Linked DNA regions of Homo sapiens: region 1 is linked to region 2. The links come from fine-mapping of genetic effects on gene expression. Tissue or cell type: whole blood. Region 2 holds a variant in brackets; the other region holds the start of a gene. All regions are shown on one strand. Distances are from middle to middle.

Evidence for each region. PIP is the estimated chance that this variant, and not a neighbour inherited with it, causes the effect.
Region 1: it holds the start of PLEKHA5, and the variant in region 2 is fine-mapped to the expression of PLEKHA5 in whole blood (TOPMed, PIP above 0.99). The same link has a PIP of 0.9 or more in blood mononuclear cells.

Annotation. Positions count from the first base shown.
Region 1 is chr12:19,123,068-19,135,004 of GRCh38, reverse strand. It overlaps PLEKHA5 (pleckstrin homology domain containing A5), which reads right to left and starts at 5,272. Exons shown (of 32, transcript NM_001256470.2): 1 at 5,117-5,272; 2 at 4,875-4,954; 3 at 2,555-2,612. The coding sequence starts at 5,205.
Region 2 is chr12:19,051,157-19,063,093 of GRCh38, reverse strand. All of the region lies in intron 1 of LOC107984527 (a long non-coding RNA gene), which reads right to left. Among named protein-coding and RNA genes, the nearest start is that of PLEKHA5, 73 kb to the left of the region's middle. The variant T/C (reference allele first, on the strand shown) is at 6,761.

The DNA.
Region 1 (11,937 bases), 72 kb before region 2:
AAATCCACCCCGATAACCCTGTAACCTCCTTTACATACAATTTGATCAATAACCACCTTTCTTCATCTGAGAAAGAAATGACAATGAAAAACTATAGCCACCAACACGAATCACTTTCCTACTTCAGACTCCTATCTTTTCCTCCACTCTGAATATTCTAAATATAGTTTATGTTCCTGGGGTTTCTCATCCTGCTGTCTTTGCAAACTGTAAGTTCCAAAGGCATGTTTCTGCTGTTTTATTATGTGTGTGACAATGGGAGTAGTAACTCTGACTACTTCATGAATGAATAATGTATGTGAAGGTACTCTAAATTGTAAAGTTTAAGATAAAAGTAGTGCCCCTATCCTATTAGAATGATAAATAACAATACAAACAAGTAAAAAGTTTCTAGGAAATTACAGTGCACATTAGGGATTTAACTAACCTTAAAAGAAATTAGTCTTCTGACATTACCCAGAAGATAAAGCAGTAGCACCTAACATTCAGTACATCATATATTTATCAATGGTTAGTTTTTTTAAAAGTTTAATGAGTGATATGCAACACTATGCTCAATTTTAGGAGAAATTACTTCCATAATATTATAAGTTATTTATTGCTACTTTTGGACACAATTACTGGCTATGAATACCAAAATGATTAAAACCTACAAGTTTAAAAATGTCTTTAAAGTAAAATTATTATAGCTTTCTTAATATTGTCTTAATTTTCCAGAGAAACCTACTTAGGCATTAGACATGGCACTCAAATAAAATTCTAATTTGTTTAAGTAAACATAAAAGAAAACCTAATCAAAATGGCTCGTAAAACAAAAGAAACTCACTCAATGTCTTCCTAACAGCTTAGTTCTAAATTAAAACATACATACTCAGCCCACACAGAATAAGATTTTGTACTATCAAATAAACATTCATCCAAGAATGCACGCAAAGAAATTAAAATGTTATTGAAAATTGAAATGTTACCTCTGTTTTTATAAGATGAGCTAGGCTTAATGTACAGTAGTCAAAATTACATTGAATAAATGACCTGAAATGAAAAAACTGTTTTTCTTCACATATACCATACTACTAGCTTGACAAGAAAAGAAGTATCCCTTTTCGTGGCAATATCAACTCACTTTAATTTAGGATGGAAATAACCAATAGAAAAACATTTGATGACTGCATTTCACTCAAGTATTTTTTTAGGCCATCTAATAATGTATAGTATAATCTCCAAAGAAAAGATTTCACCCAAAAATATTCACAGAAAGACCATACCATGAAACTATTCCATTCCTGTATCTTCTGCTTTCTCTATTTCTACATCCAAAAGCAAGCATTCCTAATACTTATAAAAAAGCCCTTGACGTTTTATCTAAGTATCTTTCTAAAAGATTAAAGAACCATACAGGTAATTATAATTTACTGGAAGTATAACATGATCTTAAAAATGTCACAGTAAAAATAACTTTCTAGGCTCAATGAAATAAAGGTAACTTTAGCTAGGTATCTGTTATTGTTTATAAACTACTGAAGTCTTAACCCAGTTTGGCATTTCAGCATTCTCTTTCATGTCTCAGTTTATTAAAATTAAAGAACAAATAAGGTTAAACAATAAAAACAAACTCTTAGGTAAATAGTTTCTAATATAAAAATAAAAAGACAAAACCACCCATATTTTTCGTTGGGGGATTAAAATTTTTCCTACATGATGTTGACCTCCAGCTTTGTATTTGTCTCCAAGTAGTACTAAGTTATTAAGTTTGAACATAAATTAGTTTAATATTCTAAAGAACTGGTTTTAAGATTGGGACTGACTGGTCATCTTTTCTCTCAAGCTCTACTAAAAGCCTTTTTTAAACAAACATATCAATAAAACATCTTGACTTAGACATATTTAAATAAACTGAGGCAAAAATACAAACAATGCTCCAATATATGCTCATGAAATATTCAGTAACTATTTCTATTTTTACTCCCTGACCGTCATTGTTTATCAAATTGTGCCTAGCTTTACATCACTTTTGCTACCTATAAACAGCCCTGGTCAAAATATACATGAACAAGGTTCACTAAAAAAAAAAAAAAAAAAAAGATGTTCACGTAACTCAGATTTTTTTTTGTTTGTTATCTCTCAGCACAGATAATCAAAGATCAAAACTTTAAGTACCACATAGCTAATGACCAATAATCCTCTATTACCCAGGAATATACACAGAAGCACCAAAAAAAAAAAAAAAAAAAGGTAATTGTGGTCATATTCTGATGAAGCTGGACGATTCCAAAAGAAAAAAACGAAGATACAAAATTATTTTTAAAAGTGGCCATAAATGATCTAATTTCCAAATCAATGAATCGATGAATATTCCAGGCAAATAACATTAGAAAAGTAAGAGTGCCATTTTCTTCTCTCAAAATTCTGACACTATACAAAATAAAGAATACAGTCACCATTATATGATAAACTTCAGAAAATCATGATCAAGACTGGACATACAACTATTCAGCTGAGGAGTAATCACAGCATTCTAATTACGAAGGAAAAAAATGAAAGTCAAAAAACTCACTTTATATAGTATCTTGCACCTTCAAAAGTATATGCTTCTTCCCAGCCAGTAGGCAAATCTAAAACAATACATATATTACAATTAGTATTACTTCAATGATAGCAAAATAAGTCTCAATCCATTTTAATTATCCATTTTCATTTATTAGCTGTTTTAATTAAGTAGATTACTAACAAAAAAAGTGTTGAGCTGGCAATACAACAGATATCATTTTTTGAAAAACAGCAATTCAAATTTAGAGCCACCAGAAAAGTAACCATAATATTAGAGATTATCTGACCTGAGCACACACTGTAATATATTAGGGTGGAGAGGAACTATGTTCTGGCACCCAAGAAAGCAAAGGGAAGCCTTCTCATCCCAGGTGGAACACTCATGAATGACTAGCAAAAAAAAAAGCTGGGTATAACAGGCAACGCCTGCCTCTTCTTGGGTATATTGTGTCTATTTAAGACCGTATTTTTCAGCTACACAAATGAATCCATCTAGGAAGTGTCACCAAAAAGAAGGCAGAACTTCCTAACTACTTAATTAATGGAAAAGAAATGACACCGAATACTTCCGTGTGTGTTTCTAAAAATTTGACTAAGAGACGTGAAGTTTCAAGTAGTAAAGTTGGGGATGATTCAGGTGAACAATGGTCATTATGTGCTACATATTATTATTAATGACAAGTTGTTTGGATTTCATCAAAATGCCTCTTGGAAGTAAAAACAACCGATGTGTGTACAAAACCAGAGTCCAAGCAAAGTAAAACCAAACCAGAAAAAAAAAAAAGTGAAATCACATAAAAGAATAAAATTTTTCTGTGGCGTGAATGTTACCAAATCTGTGGGGTTAACTAGGACACTTATTTATATCACTCATAATTCCATAGGATAATTAGTCTAAATAATTTAAATGTCATATCGTCTTTCATGAAATAAATCTATCATTATCCATAAAAGCAAAGAGGCCATCAAAGTTGGAATATGCGTGTAAAACACCAGAAAGGTATATTGAAGCAAAAGCCTGCACCGGGGAATTGAGAAACATGATAGTGTATTAGTCAGAAATGCCTTAAAAATGTAAGCTCATCATGCTTGCTACACCAGCCTTTCCTTTCTTCCTCCACCTTTTTGCAAATTTGGAGACATTAGTCACTTCAGTGAACTCCAGCATTTCACAGAGAGGCAGGTTTGTTCAATATCCTGGCAACTTTAACAGATTCACGGAATGTCAGAGTCCGAGAGAATGTACCCCAGAGGCCAGCTCTGAGGACTGCTGAAACTGGCCTCGCCTTCGACCCAAACTGCTCTCAAGCCTTTCCAATCACCAGGACTAGAGGCAGGCCAGTAAGAGAACACATGTTACATTTCAAAGACAAACAAGTCACGAATGTAAACAAAGAATGATAAAAGAAACCCAGACCAGTACAGAAACTACGAGGAGCCTTTTCCAGCTCCACTCACACTTAGCATTCAAACAAGCTCCCAAAGCCACCCGAGAGAGCCGCTTCCCCACGGACTCCCTCCAAACAGGGCCCGGGTGCCCCCATACGGGACACCCCCTCGCACGCCCACCGCCTCCTGGCAGTCTGTGCAACCTCCGTGCGGCTGGCGGGGACTTTAGATCCGGATCGCCAGCAACTGAGGCTGCGAACGCCTCCTCCGGCTCCGGCTGCTCCTCCCGTGGCAGGAGGGAACGCGCCAAGCGTTTCCCGAGCCGTTCCCTGTCACAGAGAGGATCGCAGCACCCCCGAACTCCTCTCCTCCTCCTCCTCCTCCTTCATCAGCCACCTACCCACAAGTCCCACCTAGGAGGAGGAAGCTGCACGGCAGGAGGCAGCGCTCCTGGGAGGAGGGGGAGGATGTGGTTACGTTATCCCGGCGGGCGATCGGGGTCCGGGGCTGCAGGGAGGGGAGTGGGTAAGGACTGCCTGAAGATTGCTGGGGGGCAAGACGGCAGCTGGGGGTCACCGGGGAGTGAGTAGCGGCCGCGGAGGAAAAACTCAGGACTCCAGGTTTCAGGGAGGGGAGCGTCGCCACTCTAGGGTCGCGAGGGTCGTCTAGGCTGGGATGGGGGGAGAAGGCGCAGGAAGAGGGCGCCGTCTCCAAGTGCTGATGAAAGGCTGAGGAGAAAGAGGCGCCCCGAGACTGGAGAGAACTCCCGGCGGCGGAGTCCCCGTGGCCCCTCTACCTGCGGCCGCTCCCGCCCGGCCTCCGCCCCGCCTCGCCGCCTCCCGGGGCCCGCGGCGCGGGGCAGGTTGCGGGGAGCCGGGCGGCCCGGGCTCTGCCGCCTCCTCCAGGCGGAGCCCAACTCCGTTTGGGCCCGGCGTTACCTGTGCTCTGCCGCCGGTGTCCGGTGACCACCGCCTCGCCGGTGACGGGGTGCAGCCAGGTGGTGCTCTTGGCCTCCTCGCTGCAGGGGTGAGAGAAGGGGCAGACACGGAGCGTGAGAGGGGACGCGGGGGCGAGCCGAGGGGCTGCAGGAGCACAGACCCGGGCTCTCCCCCGTGTCGCCAGCCGCCCGCCTCCTGCCCTCCCGCCCCCGCGGGCCCCCGTGCCGTCCCCGGCTCTTTACTTGATGAAGAAGACTCGGCCGCCCCTGGTGATCCCGTAAGTCCAGGACCGGGGCAGGGAGATCCACTCCAGGTTCAGATCCGCCGCCATGTCTGATCCCTAGCCGCCGCCGCCGCCTTCTCCTGCTGCCGCCGCGGCTGCCGAGGGAGGAGGGAACGAGCGAGCGAAGGGAGCGCGGAGCGAGCGCGCCTCCCCGGCCCGGCGCGCCCCCGCGCGCGCCCTACCCCCTCGGGCGGTGCCCGCCCCGCCGCCCCGGCAGGGTCCGGCCCCCGTCGCCGCCCCTCCGCATCCCGGCGGCCGCCGGCCGGCCGCCCCGCCGCGCGCTCGGGGGATGGGCAAGCGGCGCCGCGCCCCAGACCCCTCCCTCGGGCCCCTGCGGCGCGCCCGCCCCCTCCGCCGCGCGAAGGTTCCGGGATCGATTAAAAAAAAAAAAAAAAAAAAAAAAAAACGCGTCCTGCCCCCAGGGCTTTGCCCGAAGGCTTCCCATCCCAGGGCGCGATCAAAGGGAGCCTAATAATGCCCAAGCCCCTGATTTCTCTCTTTCAAACAACAAAAACACAGCGTCTGAGCTTTGTTTTATAAGAGCTGTTGGAGAGCCAACAGATTTTTCCAATATATTTATCGTTTTAAAATGGAAAGCTGTTTTTATTAAAGCACACGAAAGGCCTTTCCTGTTTGTTTGTTGTGTGCCAGATATCAAAGGTTGGACGTGATACGTGGCCCCATGAAATATGAGTGGATTTAGACTTGACAAAACAAGTTTTTTCTCTTCCTAGGCCCCTTAGGTCATATCTTATAAAATAAAAACTCGTCTTTTTCTGGTACTTGTTTTTAAAGATTCACTTAACATCAGTGTGGATTTTTACTTGCCCTGTCTCCAATAGATTACAATAATAGCTTATTTTATGGAGTCCTTGTGACGGTGTACATTTTTAAATCTTCACAACAACTATATATATATGTGTGTATATATATATATGTGTGTGTGTGTGTGTATATATACACACACACACACAATCTATAAAAAATCCCCATTTTACAGATAGGAAAAATGAAGTTTAAAAACACAGTAGTTTGCCCAGTCATAGTAATAACTGCCAAAGCCTGGATTCAAACTGGCTGTAGGATTTCAAAAGTATATTTGTATAACCTCCTTGCTGTACAAGCCCACTTTGTTTTACTGCGATTCACTTTATTGCTGTTTGCAGATCTTTCACATCTTACAAATTGAAGGTTTGTGGCAACTCTGCATTAAGCAAGTCCTAGCACCGTTTTTCAACAGCATTTGCTCACTACATGTCTCTGTGGCACATTTTGGTAATTCTTGCAATCTTTCAAACTTTTTCATTATTGTACCTGTTATAGTGATCTGTAATCAGTGATCTTTGATGTTACTGTTGAAATTGTTTTGAGGGCACCATGAACTGAGCCCATGTAAGACAGGGACTTAATAAATGTGTGTGTTCTGACTGCTCCACCAACCAGCTGTTCCTCTGTCTCTCTGCTTCATCTTGGGCCTCCATATTCCCTGAAATGAAACACTAATAATTGTCTAATAATAATGGCCTAATATTGAAATTAGGCCAACCAGTAACCCTACAATGCCCTTTAAGTGACCAAGTGAAAGGAAGAGTTGCATGTCCCTTACTTTAAATGAAAAGCTAGAAACGATTAAGCTCAGATGTATCAACAGCCAAGAGAGGCCAAAAGCTCGGCCTTGTGTCAAATAATTAGACAAGTTGGGAATGCAAAGGAAATGTTCTTGAAGGAAATTGAAAATGCTACTCTGGTGAAAACATGAATTATAAGAAAACAAAACAGCCTCATTGCAGATAGGGAGAAAATTTTAGTGGTCTGGGGAGAAGATCAACCTAGCTACAACATTCCCTTTAGCCAAAGCCTAATCCAGAGCAAGGCTCTAACTCTCTTCAATCTTATGAAGGTTGAGAGAGCTGAGGAAGCTGCAGAAGAAAAGGTTGAAGCTATCAGGGATTTAAGGAAAAACACCATCTCCGTAACATAATAGTGCAAGATGAAGCAGCAAATGATGTAGAAGCTGCAGCAAGTTATCCAGAAAATCTAGTCAAGATCATTGAAGGTGGATACACTAAACATATTTTCAATGTAGACAAAACAGCCTACTATTGAAAGAAGATGCCATCTAGGACTTTCACTGCTAGAGAGGAAAAGTCAATGCCTGGCTTCAAAGCTTCAAAGGGCAGGCTGACTTTTTTGTTAGGAGATAATGCAGCTGGTGATTTTAGGTTGAAGCCAATTCTCATTGACCATTCCAAAAATTCTAAGACCCTTAAAAATTATGCTAAATATACTCTTCCTGTGCTCTATAAATGGAACAACAAAGCCTAGATGACAGCACATCTGTCATGGCTGACTGAACATTTTAAGTCTGCTGTTGAGACCTACTGCTCAAAAAAAAAAAAAAAAAAAGAAAAGAAAAAGTGATTCCTTTCAAAATATTTCTGTTCATTGACAGTGTACCTGTTTACCCAAGAGTTCTCCTGGAGACATACAAGAGATTAGTGTTGTTTTCATGTTGGCTAACCCAACATGCATTCCACAGTTCATGGATCAAGGAGTCATTGTGACTTTCAAGTCTTATTATGTAGAAAGTACATTTCATAAGGCTATAGCTGCCAGAGATAGGGGGTCCTTGGATGGATCTGGAAAAAGTAAATTGAAAAAATTCATAATTCTAGATGCCATCAAGGACATTTGTGACTTAAGGAAGGAAGCCAAAAGATCAACATTATCAAGAGTTTGGAAGAAGTTGATTCCAACCCTCATGGATGAGTTTGAGGGGTTCAAGACTTCAGTGGAGGCAGTAACTAGAAATATGGAAATAGCAAGAGAACTAGAATTAGAGATAGAGCCTGAAGATGGGGCTGAAATGCCACAATCTCATGGTAAAATTTGAAGGGATGAGGAGTTGCTTCTTATGGATGAGCAAAGAAAGTGATTTCTTGAGAGGGAATCTATTCCTGGTGAAGATACTGTAAATATTGTTGAAATGACAACAAATAGTTTAGAATATAATATAAACTTAGTTGATAAAGTAGTGGCAGGGTTTGAAAGGATAGATTCCAATTTTGAAAGAAATTATACTGTGTGTAAAATGCTGTCAAACAGTATCACATGCTACAGAGAAATCCTTCATGGAAGGAAGGGTCAATCGATGCAGCAAACTTCTCTATTGTCTTTAAGAAACTGCAACAACTGCTCTTACCTGCATCAACACTAGCCTGACTGGTCAGCAGCCTTCAACAACATTGAGGCAAGATCCACCAGCGAAAAGATTAAGACTTGCTGGAGACTCAGATGATCCATTAGCATTTTTTAACCATTAAAGTTTTTTTTTTGTTGTTGTTGTTGTTTTTGAGATGGAGTCTCACTTGGTTGCCCAGGCTGGAGTGCAGTGGCACAATTTCAGCTCACTGCAACCTCCATCTCCCAGGCTCAAGCAATTTTCCTGTCTCAGCCTGCCTAGTAGCTGGGACTACAGGTGCGCATCACCATGCCCAGCTAATTTTTGTATTTTTATTAGAGACAGGGTTTCACCATGTTGGCCAGACTGATCTGGAACTCCTGACCTCAGGTGATCCACCTGCCTTGGCCTCTCAAAGTGCTAGGATTACAGGCGTGAGCCACCGCGCCTGGCTAAAGTATTTTTTAAATTAAGGCATGTACGTTTTTTAGCCATAATGCTATTGCACACTTAATGGATTACAGTATAATAAATATAACTAATATATGCACTAGGAACCAAAAAAATGGTGTGACTCACTTTATTGCTATGTTCACTTTATTGTGCTGGTCTAGAAATGAACCAGCAGTGTCTCCTAGGTATGCCTGTAGTTAAAAAATAAGTCTTGTTGGCTGGGCGCGGTGGCTCACGCCTGTAATCCCAGCACTTTGGGAGGCCGAGGCGGGCGGATCACGAGGTCAGGAGATTGAGACCATACTGGCTAACATGGTGAAACCCCGTCTCCACTAAAAATACAAAAAATTCTCCGGGCATGGTGGCGGGCGCCTGTAGCCCCAGCTACTCCGGAAGCTGAAGCAGGAGAATGGCATGAACCCGGGAGGCGGAGCTTGCAGTGAGAGGAGATCGCACCACTGCACTCCAGCCTGGGCGACAGAGCTAGACTCCGTCTCAAAAAAAAAAAAAAAGAAAAAAGAAAAGAGAGTCTTGTCTCCCTTCCTCCTGCTTTTGTTCGTTGAACAAGGGCAGATTTCACTGCGACTGGGATCTTCTCCCTTAATGCCATCTAAGAGTAAACTGCCTCTTCTCATTGTCTCTGGTCTTTTACCACACTTGGAATCGCTTATGCATCTTTGCAGCAAGATGACTCATTCCAACAGGATGCACAGTACAGTAATAATAGTACTACTTAGTATTCTTATAGCACCTAATTTTGTGACCAGTTTTGGGTGTTTCTGGAGCATGATCTCATTCATCTTCTCAGTAACTTAAAATGGTAAATAATGTTTTTCAACAGTTAAGGAAACTAAGGCACAGAAAGGGTAAATGACCTCGGACAAAGCCATATCCAGCAAGTCAGTTGGGGCCTGGATGAGAATGTAGTTTCACTGAACTTTTTCTCCCATACTCTGATTCCCCAAGGCCATTCTGTCTTCAGTGAAAAGGAGTCTGCAATTACTGCTCTAATTTTCCTGTCCATCTGCATACACAAGGGGGAAAAAATAACATCATTTTAATGTTTTCTCTTTTGGTTCCTTTGCATTCTCCTCTTTCATTTCACTACTTATTACTTCTTGACATCTTATCTCCTGCCCAGTCTCTGGAAAAAAAAAAAATGACTCCTTTTTTTTAATCAATGAATAACTAGCAGGAAATGTTCCACATTAGCGTCAGTAGTCACTGGATATAATATAGCAAGAAAATCAAGAGCTACTGACTTTGTATTATGTTGTCATTGCAAATAAAAAATCTAAAGTTAGTCTTTTAATATGATTATAACTTTGCAATTCTAGTACCAGTTAGTCCAGCTATAGCATTTGACTTTTTGACTGTGTACTACTGGGAAGCCTGTAAGTTGACCATATGCAGTACTGGTATTCCTTTTAGCTCTAAATCTTTTGATACTACAAGATTTATTATTGCAAGGCACATTTCAAAAATCAATAGAAATTCACTTCATAAAAACGTGTATCTTAAGAAATCACATTCACAGTGCTTAAATGGCAGTCTAGAATCTTAAGTACAATTCTATAATGTGCACCCAAATTTAGGAAAAACAGTAAATAAAAAACTTAGTGACACATATACAAAAAGAGGCATGCTTCTGATTTGGGGAAATAATTGCCCTTAGGACTTCCAAGAGCCAGTAAAAGCAGCCTCAATATTAGAAAGATGGGCGCTGTGAATAATTTCCATCCTTAATGAATAAAATGGTATTTTTCTAGAATGCCCTCTCTCTGTAACTATGTCTTTATCTAGTTCTGCTTTATCTTGTAGTTGTGTGTATATGTGAGTCTCCTTCACTGTAGTGAGGTAAGAATCATGCCCTTCCCATCACAGAATCTCTGCAACCTTGAGTCAGCACTAGAATGGTTACTGAATTTAATTTTCTTCCCAATGCTTCTACCTCCCAACAGAGTTATTTCCCAATAACATATCCCCTTTTTTATCACCCCATACCTCTTCAATAACTGATTCAGATATAAACTCATATCTAACCTCTGCTTTTTATTGTTTTTTTTTTTCATATTTCCATCCTATGAGACTATTCAATTTCTTATATCATGATCTGCCTTTTGGAGCAGCATTATCCGATGACTATCACAGCACAGCCAAAAAAAGAGGAGGTTTAACAAGTACTGAACACTAAAAATAAACGTCACTCGCTCCATATATGGAGGAAAATCCTTGTTCTAAAGAGCTTATAGTTCAAACAAAGCAGAAAAACACACATAATAACAAGAAAAACACAAAGTTAAATTTCCTAAAATATGTGAAAGGAAAAAGAACAAGGTGACATCTGAGAAAGCAGCTAATCAATTTGTTTCCTTTTTAAAAAGGAATGGGAAAAATTTATGAGTTCTAGAAAATGGAGAAAGAGGCTCATGAGAGAGAAGGTAATTCCTTTTACTATTAAGAAGCATCTATCATTCGTATATATATGAATGTTTATTAAAACCTACCAACAAACTTTTGTGACTTTTATGTGGTTGTCTTTCCAAATATATTTGTGATACCTCATATATAACATTATTGCATGATATACCTCATATATCACATGTTGCATTATTAATTCACAAAATAAGGATTTTTTTTCTTTTTTTTGAGATGAGGTCTCACTCTGTTGCCCAGGCTGGAGTGCAGTGGCATGATCTCTGCTCATTGCAACCTCCGCTTCCCAGGCCCAAGTGATGCTCCCACCTAAGCTTCCCGAATAGCTGGGACCACAGGTGCACACCACCAGGCCTAGGTAACTTTTTATATTTTTGGTTAGAGATGGGGTTTCATCACGTTGCTCAGACTGGTCTTGAACTCCCAAGCTCAGGCAATGCACCCACCCACTTCGGCCTCCCAAAGTTCTGGGATTACAGGTGTGATCACCACACCCAGCTGACAATAAAGAATATTGTAAACGGTTCCTCTAACTTTTAACTAGTCAACAGTAAGGTGTTACATACCATCAGAAGTCTATAGTGAAGGGCAAAATATATGATCCAATTAGTTTAGTGGAAATCTAGGCAGAAAGACTGGAGACTGAGAGTCTAAGGCAGAGAACAAAAATAAAATCTGGAAATCAATTTATTAAAGCTTTTTTTTCTGTT
Region 2 (11,937 bases):
CTCGTCATATTTGTGAAATTTACTCAGGATTTTATTTTAACTGTAATTTTTATTTTTCAGTATTTTTTAATCTTCCATTATAGAATTACAGCTACAATTCATTTATCAATTTTACTGTTAATGGGCATTTGGGTATTTTTAGTTTGAGGCAAAAACAAATAATACCGCTAAGAACGTGCTTCTACATGGCGCTTGGTGCACATATGTACACATTTCTGTTATATCTGTTCCTAGGAGGGGAAGTGCTAGATCTACAGTGTGCTTGTATTCAATCCTTAGACACTGCCAGACTCTGCTAAGCAGATTGCATTAATTTTATATGCTAAACAATAGTGAATGCCTCAATGATTGGTATTTTCAGTCTTAAGTTTTGGCCACACTGATGGGTTTGTAGTGGTACTTTATCTACTTTTAGTTTACATTTTCCCTGAGTTTACATTAACCAATGAGTTCAGTACCTTTCACATGTTCATACATTCATTGACTATTTGGATATCATCTTTTGTGAGTTGGCTGTTCAAATCTCTTGCACATTTTTCCATTTGGTTGTTCACCTTTATTATTATTGGTTTGTAGAATTGTTTATGTATATTAAAAATATTGTCTCCTACTCATGGCTTACTTTTTACTCTCTTATTGATGTCTCAATAAACTTGATATAGTAACTTTAATTAGTCTTTCTTTTTATGATTTTGCTTTTGGTGCCCTGTTTATGAAGTCTTTTCCAATTCTATCTAGGTCATGAAGAAATTCTACTAACATCTTCTAGAAGCTTCAGAATTTTGTTTTTTCACACTTAAATTTGCAATCTCTCTGGCATTGTTTTCTCTGAATGGCATGTGATTAAGTTTAGAGTCCATTTTTTTTTTCACCTATGGGGATTTCCAATGTTGTCAGCAACATTTATTGTAAAGTTATGCTTTCCCTGCTATTCTGAAGTGCCATGTTAATTGTAATTCAGGATCTAGATATGAACAGGTCTATTTCTGGAATTTTGTTTTCATTTCATTGTTTTATTGTCTGTCCTTTAATCAATACCATATTGTGTTAATTATTTTTACATGTAGGGTGTATCAATGTCCTGTAGAGTAAGTCCTCGCATCATGTTCTTCTTCGAGAGTATCCTCACTATTCTGAGTCTATTGCATTTCCATATATTTCCATTTTGGTACCGGACTGGTCCAATTGCATTTTGATGCATTTTCATTTTAGGACCAGCTTTTCCAATTCCATGAAAACAACAACAAGACAAATACACAAACACATAAATATAAACACACACATAATATATGTAAACACACACATATAAAACAAATTTAAAAATGGGTTAAGATTTTAGCTGGGATTGTACTGACTCTATACAGCAGTTTGAAGAAAATTGACATTACATTATTGAGTCTTCAAACTCATGAACATGGTGTGTCTCTCCTTTTGTTTTAGTCTTTAAGGTCTTTCAATGTTTCATAGTTTTCTGTATAGAGGTCTTATATGTCTTTTGTTAGATTTAATATTTAATAATTTAACATTTTTGGTTTATAATAAATAGTATCATTTAAAAATTTTATTTTCTGTTTATTGTTGCCATAAAGTAATATATTTAGGAGCCTCTGGAGCTTCTAGAACATAACAGGAGAATATTCTTCCTGACCTGAAGTAGGAAAAGGAATGCATTTATTTACTTGTGTAGCAATTTTGATGAACTGTCTTGTTAATGCTAATTTTCTGTCATTCTTTTGACACTTCTATGAACACATGCACATATCATCTGGGTTTTATTTCTTATTTCTTTCTTTCCAGTCTTTCCCCCCATTTCCCATTCCTCATTTTCTTTCCCTTTTGTTTTTCTGTATTAGCTGGGCTCCCTTTCTGTACTGGTGGCTACCTTCTTCCAATGTTGAAAGGAAGTGGTAACGACAGACATACCCATCTTTTTCCAGATCTCAGTAGAAAGCTTACACCGTTTCACCGCTAAGAATAATGCTTGCTGTATCTTTCCTTTTCGTACTCTTTAACAAAATAAGAAGATTACCTTGTATTCCTAGTTTGATGAGAATTTTTATAATGAATAGATTTTGAATTTTATCACAGTATTTTCTTTATTTATTTAAATGATCATATGAATTTTCTCTTTTCCACTAATGTGATAAATTGAACTGACTGATTTTTAAATCTTTGACCAATCTTGCACTCTTGGAATGAACTCAGATTTTTATATTTTGCTAAATTTGATGTTAGAATTTTGTTTAGGATTTTTTCAATTTGTGCTCTGAGTGATACTGACTCAGACTTTTTCTTTCTTGAAGCATTTTTGTCATGGTTTGATATCAACATTAACATAATAACTTCAAAAATAAAGAGAAATAGTGCCTCATTTGCTGTTCTCTAGAAAAGTCTGTTTAAACGTTTGGTAGCATTTACCAGCAAACCATCTGGGCCTGTCATTTTCTCTGTGGGAAGGAATTAAATTGAGAATCCAGTATCTTTAACAGGCCATTTAGACTTTTTATTCTTGTCTTAGTTTTGGTAGCTTGTGCTTTGTCCATGTCATCTAAATTTTATTTTATTTATTTATTTTTGAGACAGAGTCTCACTCTGTTGCCCAGGCTGGAGTGCAGTGGCATGATCTCAGCTCATGGAAACCTCTGTCCCCTGGGTTCAAGCGATTCTTGTGCCTCAGCCTCCCAACTAACTGGGATTACAGGTGTGCACCACCATGCCCAGCTAATTTTTGTATTTTTAGTAGAGACGGGGTTTTGCCAGGTTGCCCAGGCTGGTTTCAAACTCCTGGCCTCAAGTGATCTGCCCGCTTTGGCCTTCCAAAGTGCTGGATTTCGGGCTTTAGCCACTGTGCCCAGCCATGTCATCTAAATTTTAAAATTTATTGACATGAAATTTTAAAAATAATATATTCTTTTTTCTTTTGTAGAGATGAGTCTCACTATGCTGCCCAGGCTGGTCTTGAACTCTTGTGTTGAAGTAATCCTCCTGCCTTGGCCTCCCAAAGTGCTGGGATTACAGGCATGAGCCACTGTGTCCGGCCTGTAATATCTTGTTATGATCATTTTAATGTCTGTATGATCTAAAGCAGGAGTGGGCAAACTATAGTTCTCAGGTCAACCTGGCCCATGGCCTGTTTTTGTTTGGGCCAGTGAGCTAAGAACGGTTTTTATATTTTGAAAGAGTTATTAAAAACAGAACAACAACAACCAAAACACAAGGATATGTGACAGAACCCAGTTTCTGCTCTTAGCTTTAATATTTCCTTAGTTTACATTTGTGGTTTAATTTCCTTTTCTTTTTTTAGCTTCTTGAGAACCCAGTTTTAATAAATACTATATTCTGTGTGTAGCAGAAAAGAACAAGTTTGCTATGCTGTTATTCAAATCTTCTACATCCTTACTGATTTTTTGTCTTTTTATTCTATTGGTTAGTAAGAGTTGTGTTAAAAATCTGCCTCTTTTATTGTGGATTCACAAATTTCTTTTTATAGTCCTGAAATGAACTACTCTTTTTGAGGTCATAGCATTAGACACATATAAATTTAGAGTTGTTACAACTTCCTGATGAATAAAATCTTTTATCATTATTAATTGGGATGGAAGGGAAGTACATTTTAAGCAGTAGCAACATTCTAACAAAGATAAAAGAAAATGTAAAACATATTTTGGAAGAGGAAATAATACGATTTAATTATATTGAGAGGTCTACTTTGGGGAATAGAAAAAAGGAGACTATGAAAATAGAGGGAGGGCTTTATTTTGGTTTGCTTCAAGCATCACAGTGAGAAGTTTGTATCTAAGCCAACCATACATTTTTGAATCCAGTTTTTTTTCACCTAAATTCAAGTTTGTCACAATCGTAAGCAATAACTTTGGCTTAAGGCTTTATACATCTTTACATATCTTTACCTAAGATAAGTGATCTTAACCATTTATTGTTAAACATCCAATTTTAGTAATTATTCTACCATCTTATTTCATTTTTCTCAAGAAAGGAAAGTAGATTTTTATAAACAAAAATAATGAATGAGTGCTCGTTTATTATCCTTTCCTGAAAATATTCATGCCAGCTCTCCTTTATTTTCTTCTGAACAATGACCTTTGAAAGAAAATAACTGGTGGAAAAACAAAGTGAAAGTCTTGCCTCAGAATTTGGCTCAGTGTCAGAGTGATGTATGCTCCAGTTTTACCTCAGAGACAGACAGTGGCTGCAGTGCAATGCTGATTTGGTGGGTGGGCTAGGTTAGGGTTCAGGACCCATTCAGCTGAGCCGAAGTTGCAGTGTGACTTGCTCGGCCACGCTGGGCTTGAAGCTGGCTAAAGGCAGGAATGGTGGGAGGTGCAGGAGAGCAGGCTTTAGGGCACACAGATGTTCATCTAATGGCCAGAAACTGCTCTGCCCTTTAGACTAGCCTCAACTTCTGGCTCACCTCACAGCCTCAAATCCACAGCAACCATATCAGCAATGATTTGTCAGAGACTGAACTGTTAATTTCTATTTCTCTGAATAGGACCTTCCATCTTCCCAGCCTTCTATTTGTTGGTACTAAGGATTCAGAAAAAGGCAGGTCCTAGCTGGGATGGGATGCTGATGTCCTTATCTGACAGGAGAGGTATCTATTACATGACTGGCTTTGTTCCCTGCTCAACCACTTACGTGTAGTGAGGCCATAGATAAATTACTTTATCTGTCTCTGCTTTCATTTCTATATCTGTAATCTGAAGATAATAGAGTTATACCTACTCCTTACACACTTTAGTGACATACTTGTGAAGATAAATTGAGGTTGAATTGTAACGTGTCTGCAAAGTCCCAAGAGCTTTGGGAATAAAGGCTATCTATAAATAAAAATGTATTATGAATGCTTGAATTTTAATAAAAGCTTTTATATTTTACCCTCATGGCACTTTAGAAAGTCATAACTGTTGAATATTGAACAGATCTTTTTTTTTTCTCTCTCCACCCTGCCTGAAATAACACTTTCTAAACTAAGTTAGATCCTGGGAGATATCCATAAAGAAGATAAAGTTTGTTTCTGTGCTTCCAGGTTCCCCATTTTGCCCTGTTTTCCTTCTCAGGATGATACACTTACACTACTATTCCAAACGGATTCAGGACTTTCAATGACTTTTTACCCCCATTAAAATACACTCTCAATCAAAAATTAAATAAACTTATCCATTGGGGCAGACTGACAAGCCTAATGTGTTATCTTTCAGTATTTTTAATCTTTTAAACCAGGACATTCTTTAGCCAAAGGATTTAATCTAAAGTGGGAAGTTTGGATTTCAATCTAAGTATGGAATGGAGGCGTTGATGCTGATGGTGACAAGGAAAGAAGGCAAGTAAGTTGGAGCTTTTTTTTTTCCTTTCTTTTTTTTTGAGACGGAGTCTCGCTCTATTGCCCTATTGCACAGGTTGGAGTGCAGTGGTGCCATCTCAGCTCACTGCAGCCTCCGCCTCCCGGGTTCCAGTGATTCTCCTGCCTCAGCCTCCTGGGTAGCTGGGATTACAGGCACGTGCCACCACACCCGGCTAATTTTTGTATTTTTAGTAGAGACAGGGTTTCATCATGTTGGCCAGGCTGGTCTCGAACTCCTGACCTCTCAGATGATCTGCCCACCTCAGCCTCCCAAAGTGCTGGGATTACAGGTGTGAGCCACTGTGCCTGACCGTAAGTTGGAGCTTCTGAAATCTTACCAGATAGGTACAGGCATTAAAAAATAACTCCAATATCAAACACTTTATATATAATCAGCCATAATTAAGAACACTAAGGAAGGCAACCCTCACTGAAGTAGATATTATTTGCTCCATTTTATAGATGAGGGTACGGAGGCTTGAAGAAATTAAATAACTGTGAGATCACACACCTAGAAAGCAGCTGATCTGAGCTCAAACAAGCTTGCTTGATTCCAAAGTAGCTTTCTTGCCATGTAGAGTAACAAAACAAATCATAAATATGTAGAACTATGGCTGGGATTAACTCTGGACTCAACTTCTTTTGTTCCTTTGATGCTAGTCAAGCACACTTTTTTTTTGGTGCTAGCAGTCTCCATGTCTCTGAATGTAATTTTTTTTTTTTTTGGACGGAGTTTCACTCTTGTTTGGCCAGGTTGGAGTGCAATGGTATGATCTTGGCTCACTGCAACCTCCACCTTCCAGATTCAAGCAATTCTCCTGCCTCAGCCTTCCAGGTAGCTGGGATTACAGGCATGCACCACCACGCTCAGCTAATTTTGTATTTTTAGTAGAGATGGGGTTTCATCATGTTGGTCAGGCTGGTCTCGAACTCCTGACCTCAAGTGATCCACCCGCCTCAACCTTCCAAAGTGCTGGGATTACAGGAGTGAGCCACCGCGCCTGGTCCTTGACTGTAATTTATGCCACAAAAATAGACATCCCTGTTCTCTGGAAATAATTATATTGTGGTAAAATGTCAAAATAGATCTTTGGTATATTCCAAATGCTTTTTAGTATATTACTAAATTTAGTAATACATGTGTTTTAATTAAAAATCAGAAAAATGTTGCTAATGCTATAATAATGCATTTATGCAGAACCCAATCTGGAGGCCCTTTCTTTATCAGCAGTTTCTTTGATGTGTGCAGCATTTCCCTTGAATCTCTCTCTCTTGAATAGTGTATTTTCTTAGTTCCCTTGATACTTCTTCAGCCAGTTTCCCTCATATTCTTTTTGCTGCTTCTTCTTTCTCTTTAATGTGTTTGTCTCTCAGAACTCTTGTGTCAGAATTCTGCTA[T/C]TTTTTTTCTATTCCCAGTACTCCTTAAGCATGCATCATTTCTTATAGCCTCAATGACAATCTTTATGTTGGTTTTCATTTCTCTCCAGCATGAATCTTGATTCAGGCAATTCAAGCTTAGATTTCCATTCATTCTTCTTGCTTTTCTGTATACTTATGCTCAACACACACACACACACACACACACACACACACACACACACACACGAGTCACCCATTCAGTCCAAGCTCTGTGTTGCCCATGATATGGTACATTATAACACAGAATTCCTCATCTTTGCATTTTCTCCCTATCATATCAAAAAATTAAAATGGCAGAGGTATATATGAAAAGTAGTTTCCTGATAAAGTTAGTGATACTTACATACTGAAGTTTATCAGTAAAAATTAATAACTAGCATTAACTAAGTGGAGCCATTATCAAGCTATAAGTGTATCATTTGGTTTTCTTATGTTGTCTTCTCCTACCCATGGGTTCTCTCTACTCATTTACAGTTTTTCGTTCACTGTCATTTAATGACTCAGCTGCCTGTCAACAAGAGTATTAATTGGGGCCATTCATGACACGTCCTCTTGTCACATCTGCTCACTCCACTGCCATTACTCTGGTCATTCGATCTTTGATCCAGCACTCTCCCTAATCTAGATAAATTTTAGAATTTTTCAGGCTTCACGCTGTCAAATTTAAAATCTCTGGTATTCTCTATTAATATCCTTCCCCCTAACTCTGTCCTAAAGTGGAGGGACAGTCCTTACATTATTAACTGCCTATTTTTCTTTTAAAATTTGATGGCTTCCATTTTCCCAGGACATACTGAAATTATTTAAAAGGGAAAATTGTTTAAAATATGTTTCATTACAAATTGTGTAGTCTATTTCTCCACATAGCAAAAATCTTACCAATTTTCCCTTCACAAGCATTTTTGTTGCAATAAAAAATAGTTTGCAAATGATCTTTTGTAGTTTCACTTTCATCTCTAGAGTATTCTATCAGTTACCCTAATTGTGATCAACAGAAACTGACTACCGTTAGCTTAAACCAAAGTACATTTATTTAGGACCTTGGTGGTAGGGGAAGGGATGGATATGGTGCTTGCTTACGTGGGGATAACAGGCTAGCAGGCAGCAAGGCAAGGCTTGGGAACAGAGAGGAGCAAAAGGGGATTTAGAAAACCAGGAAGCAGGAAGAACAGAACCATCTCATGGCAAAACTTGTCTGGTTAGCGCACCTCTTCTCTTTTATTGCCACTGAAATGAAATCATCTCTACAATGTTTTCTTCATTCTTGTATTATTCACTCAATATTCACAGTCCCAGAAAAGAGAGAACTGATTGGCTGGAGTTAAGTCACACAACTGACCCTTGGGACTACCAGAAAAAGGATCTGGAACACTTGGTTTCCAAAGACGGGCAATTGCTTTCCTTGCCACGACCACATGCAATGGGGAAGGGGCATTTTCCCAGAACGAAATTGGCGGAAGGTGAATGGATTGGGCAACCAGTAAAGACCAACGTCCATGAAGGAACTAATATTTTTTGGTTGACTTTTTCACCAGTTGAAATATTGTAGGGAAGGAGAGTCTAAAGAGAACTTTATAAATCACAGGAAAGAATAATTTGGTTTTTTTTTTTTTTTTTTTTTGAGACAATGTCTTGGTTTGTTGTTTAGGCTAGAGTTCAGTAGTGCCTTCATGGCTTGCTGCGGCCTCAAACTCCTGGGCTCAAACCATCCTCCCCCTTCAGCCTACCAACCAAGCCCAGCTAATTTTTCTTTTCTTTAAGATTTTTGTACAGATGGTTTTGCTATGTTGCCCCGGCTGGGTTTAAACTCCTGGCCTCAAGCAATTCCTCAGATCCTGGGATTACAGGTGTCAGCCACTGCCTCCGGCTTTGAGGAAATAATCAAGGAAATAATTTTAAATAACAGTATGTCTGCCCAACAAGAATTTACAATAGTATACACAAACAAGGAATTCCGAAGTGAGCATAAGAGATAGTCTCTTTGTTTTTTTCATTGTCATTTATTTTACATATAGGGTGGTGCTGAGATGTAGAAAAGGAGGAGAGAGGAGAGGAAATAAATTTGAATGGGAGAAAAAGACAAGAGAGGCAACATGGGGAACAGATATGGGTGTGTCAGCATTTTACATGTGTCATCTGCAGGTCTAATTCTAGTTTTGTGGAAACTTAGAATTGCTTTTCAAACCTTTGAGAGCATCTGCTTTACCTTTTCTCTGTCCAACTTCCATCTTTCTCTCTGGCAGCTAGGGTTTTCTGCATATTGGTTCAAGCATTCAAGCTAGTGAAAAAGCCACATATTTTTACTCTCCACTCTTAGGCAATTTTTCTCTCCATCAGAGCCAGTTTGTGCACGCTGTTCATGGGCTCCAGTGGTAAGAAAGATTCATTTTTCATAAGGGAACATCAAAATTAAGAGAAGTGTAAAACCATTTAGCATCCATTGTTCTTTTTTATAATTAGCAAGAATGGGCTGAGGGCAAGATAAAGCATATATATTTCTGACATCTTTAGATTCTTTTTTTTTTGGACACAGATGACAAGGCAGATTTGGCTGTTTCTTGTCTAATTTGACAAGCTGAATATTGTCAGGCAGATGTCTTCATTAAGTCTGTGTAGGAAGAGGGAAGAGAATCAAAGGGAAGAAGTAGTGAGCTTTCCTTCTGGTACTCTGGATAGGGGTCTGATATCTTGCAGGGTGATCTGTGAGTACAAGGGTAGTGTAAAGTGTTTTGTGTAAAATATTTTTTTAGGATTAAAAAGACCTGTGGCAATCATCTATTGGGTCCTAACACCTCATTTTGTAGTCTTGGAATATGCAGTGTTATGACCCACTTCAGGAAGCAGTGACAATTGCAGTATTTAGGTCAGGAAGCATAGCAGAGGGGTATATGGTGAGGTTACTCAAGGTTGGGGAAACCTGAAAATGAGTTGGTGTTACATCTTCACCAGTAGTGAGGTTTGATCTAAAAGATATCTACCAGTTAAGTCATTTCTGTAAATACTATCTGTTTAATTTCAACCTTGTTCATTCCATGCAGAGGAGATAACTATCTGACGGTGAGCTCTTTTGCCATTTAGTATTCCTCTTTTCCTTTCCTCTATCTCTACTGTCAGTTGGAAGCGCAGCAAAATCTTCCCTCTGTCATTTCTTACATTTGCTTCTTTTATGTCCCTAAAAGCTTTCAAATCCCCCTTCTCAGGATTTATTCCTATTTTTGGTTCTTTGGTTGTTTTCAACTCAACTCACATCCCTCACATAGATCATATTATAACGATTCTTTAAGAAGCAAAGCATGTTAGCAACTCCTGAGTCAGTTTTCTTTCTGTAAGCAACTAGGTTACCTCAGCCAGACTGGGTGAGAAAATGGCATCACAGCAAGAAGCTTATATTGTGCTAGTTAAGTACCAGCAATGACCAGTAGCATGCAATCAGAGACTGGGGATGAAACAACAGTGCAGCTATTTGGGACAAATTTCTGCTCTATTAATTCAGTTATACATTGTGATAACTAATATGCATCCATGACCATTGACAGCAGGTGATCAAATTATGCCTCTCAATCATCATGATAATCTAAGACATTATAAAAGCAGCGGGTATAAAATGCCATGTGCTATCTGAGTAACCAGAGAATCAGGGTTAAGAAAATAGTGCTGCCAGGAAGAGCCATTGTTCTTTTCTTTCCTCCTTTCTTCTATGTTTTAAGTGTTGGTTCCTTCCCAAACTACTAGAAAAATGCCTACTGTACATTCTGAGCACTGTGCGTCTGACACTTCTTTCCCTCCCCAGGTAGCACGAATCTTGAGAAATGAAGTAGAGAAAATGGCATAACACTTTGGAATAGCACAAGGATATGGATCAGGGAGCATCGTCGCATTTAGAAATGAATGGACTGATAGGAGGAGGGATGAGGGAGGGAAGTAAGTAATGGACAATGACCACTCATGTTAAAACACAGCACATACAAATATGAGACAAAATAAATGTAAAGGGTTTTCGCTTAAAATTACTTGTAATATGTCAGAAAACATTTATCAATTTGTCAAACAAAAGATTAAAGGTAATGCACTTATTAATGCATTTAATCAAAAAGAATTTATCAAATGTTCATATGCCAGGTACTGCTTTAGTTGCTGGGAGATACAGCAGTGGACAAAGCAAAGTTTTTACTCTTATGGTGCCTATATTGCAGTAATAGTAAGAGAAAACAATAAAGAAACAAGTAAGAGCCGGACGCGGTGGCTCATGCCTGTAATCCCAGCACTTTGGGAAGCACAGGTGGGCGGATCACCTAAGGTTGGGAGTTCAAGACCAGCCTGACCAACATGGAGAAACCCTGTCTCTACTAAAAATACAAAATTAGCCGGGAGTGGTGCTGCATGCCTGTAATCCCAGCTACTTGGGAGGCTGAGGCAGGAGAATTGCTTGAACCTGGGAGGCGGGAGGCGGAGGTTGCAGTGAGCTGAGATTGTGCCATTGCACTCCAGCCTGGGCAACGAGAGTGAAACCCTGTCTCAAAAAAAAAAAAAAAAAGAAACAAGTAAATAGATAGCATGTTAGTTGGTGCGGAATACTACAGAGAAATAAATCAAGAAGGGGCAAAAGGAGCAATGGTAGTGGTGAAAAGTTAGCTATTTTACATAGAATTCTTCAAAAGAACCCCTAATGAGAAGATGGCATCTGAGCAGAGATCTGAAGGAAGTGACAGAGCCATCTATGTGGATATGTGGGCAAAGAGAGTGCAGGCAGAGGAAAGAGCAAGTGCAAAATCCGTAGGGAAAGATTGTGTTTGGTGTATTTGAGGAAAAGCAGTGAGATGCTGTGGCTGAGCATGAGGAATGTAAAGGAGAGTGATAGGGGATGATGTCGGTAGATAGGTGGGTGGGCGAAGCAAGGCAGATCAGATCATGTAAGTACTCATGTAGAACTTGATGCTTTAGAAAATCTTCTGGCACATATACACCATGGAATACTATGCAGCTATAAGAACGATGAGTTCATGTGCTTTCCAGGGACATGGATGAAGCTGGAAACCATCATTCTCAGCAAACTAACACAAGAACAGAAAAACAAACAGCGCATGTTCTCACTCATAAGTGGGAGTTGAACAATGAGATCACATGGACACAGGGAGGGGAACATCACACGTGGGGGC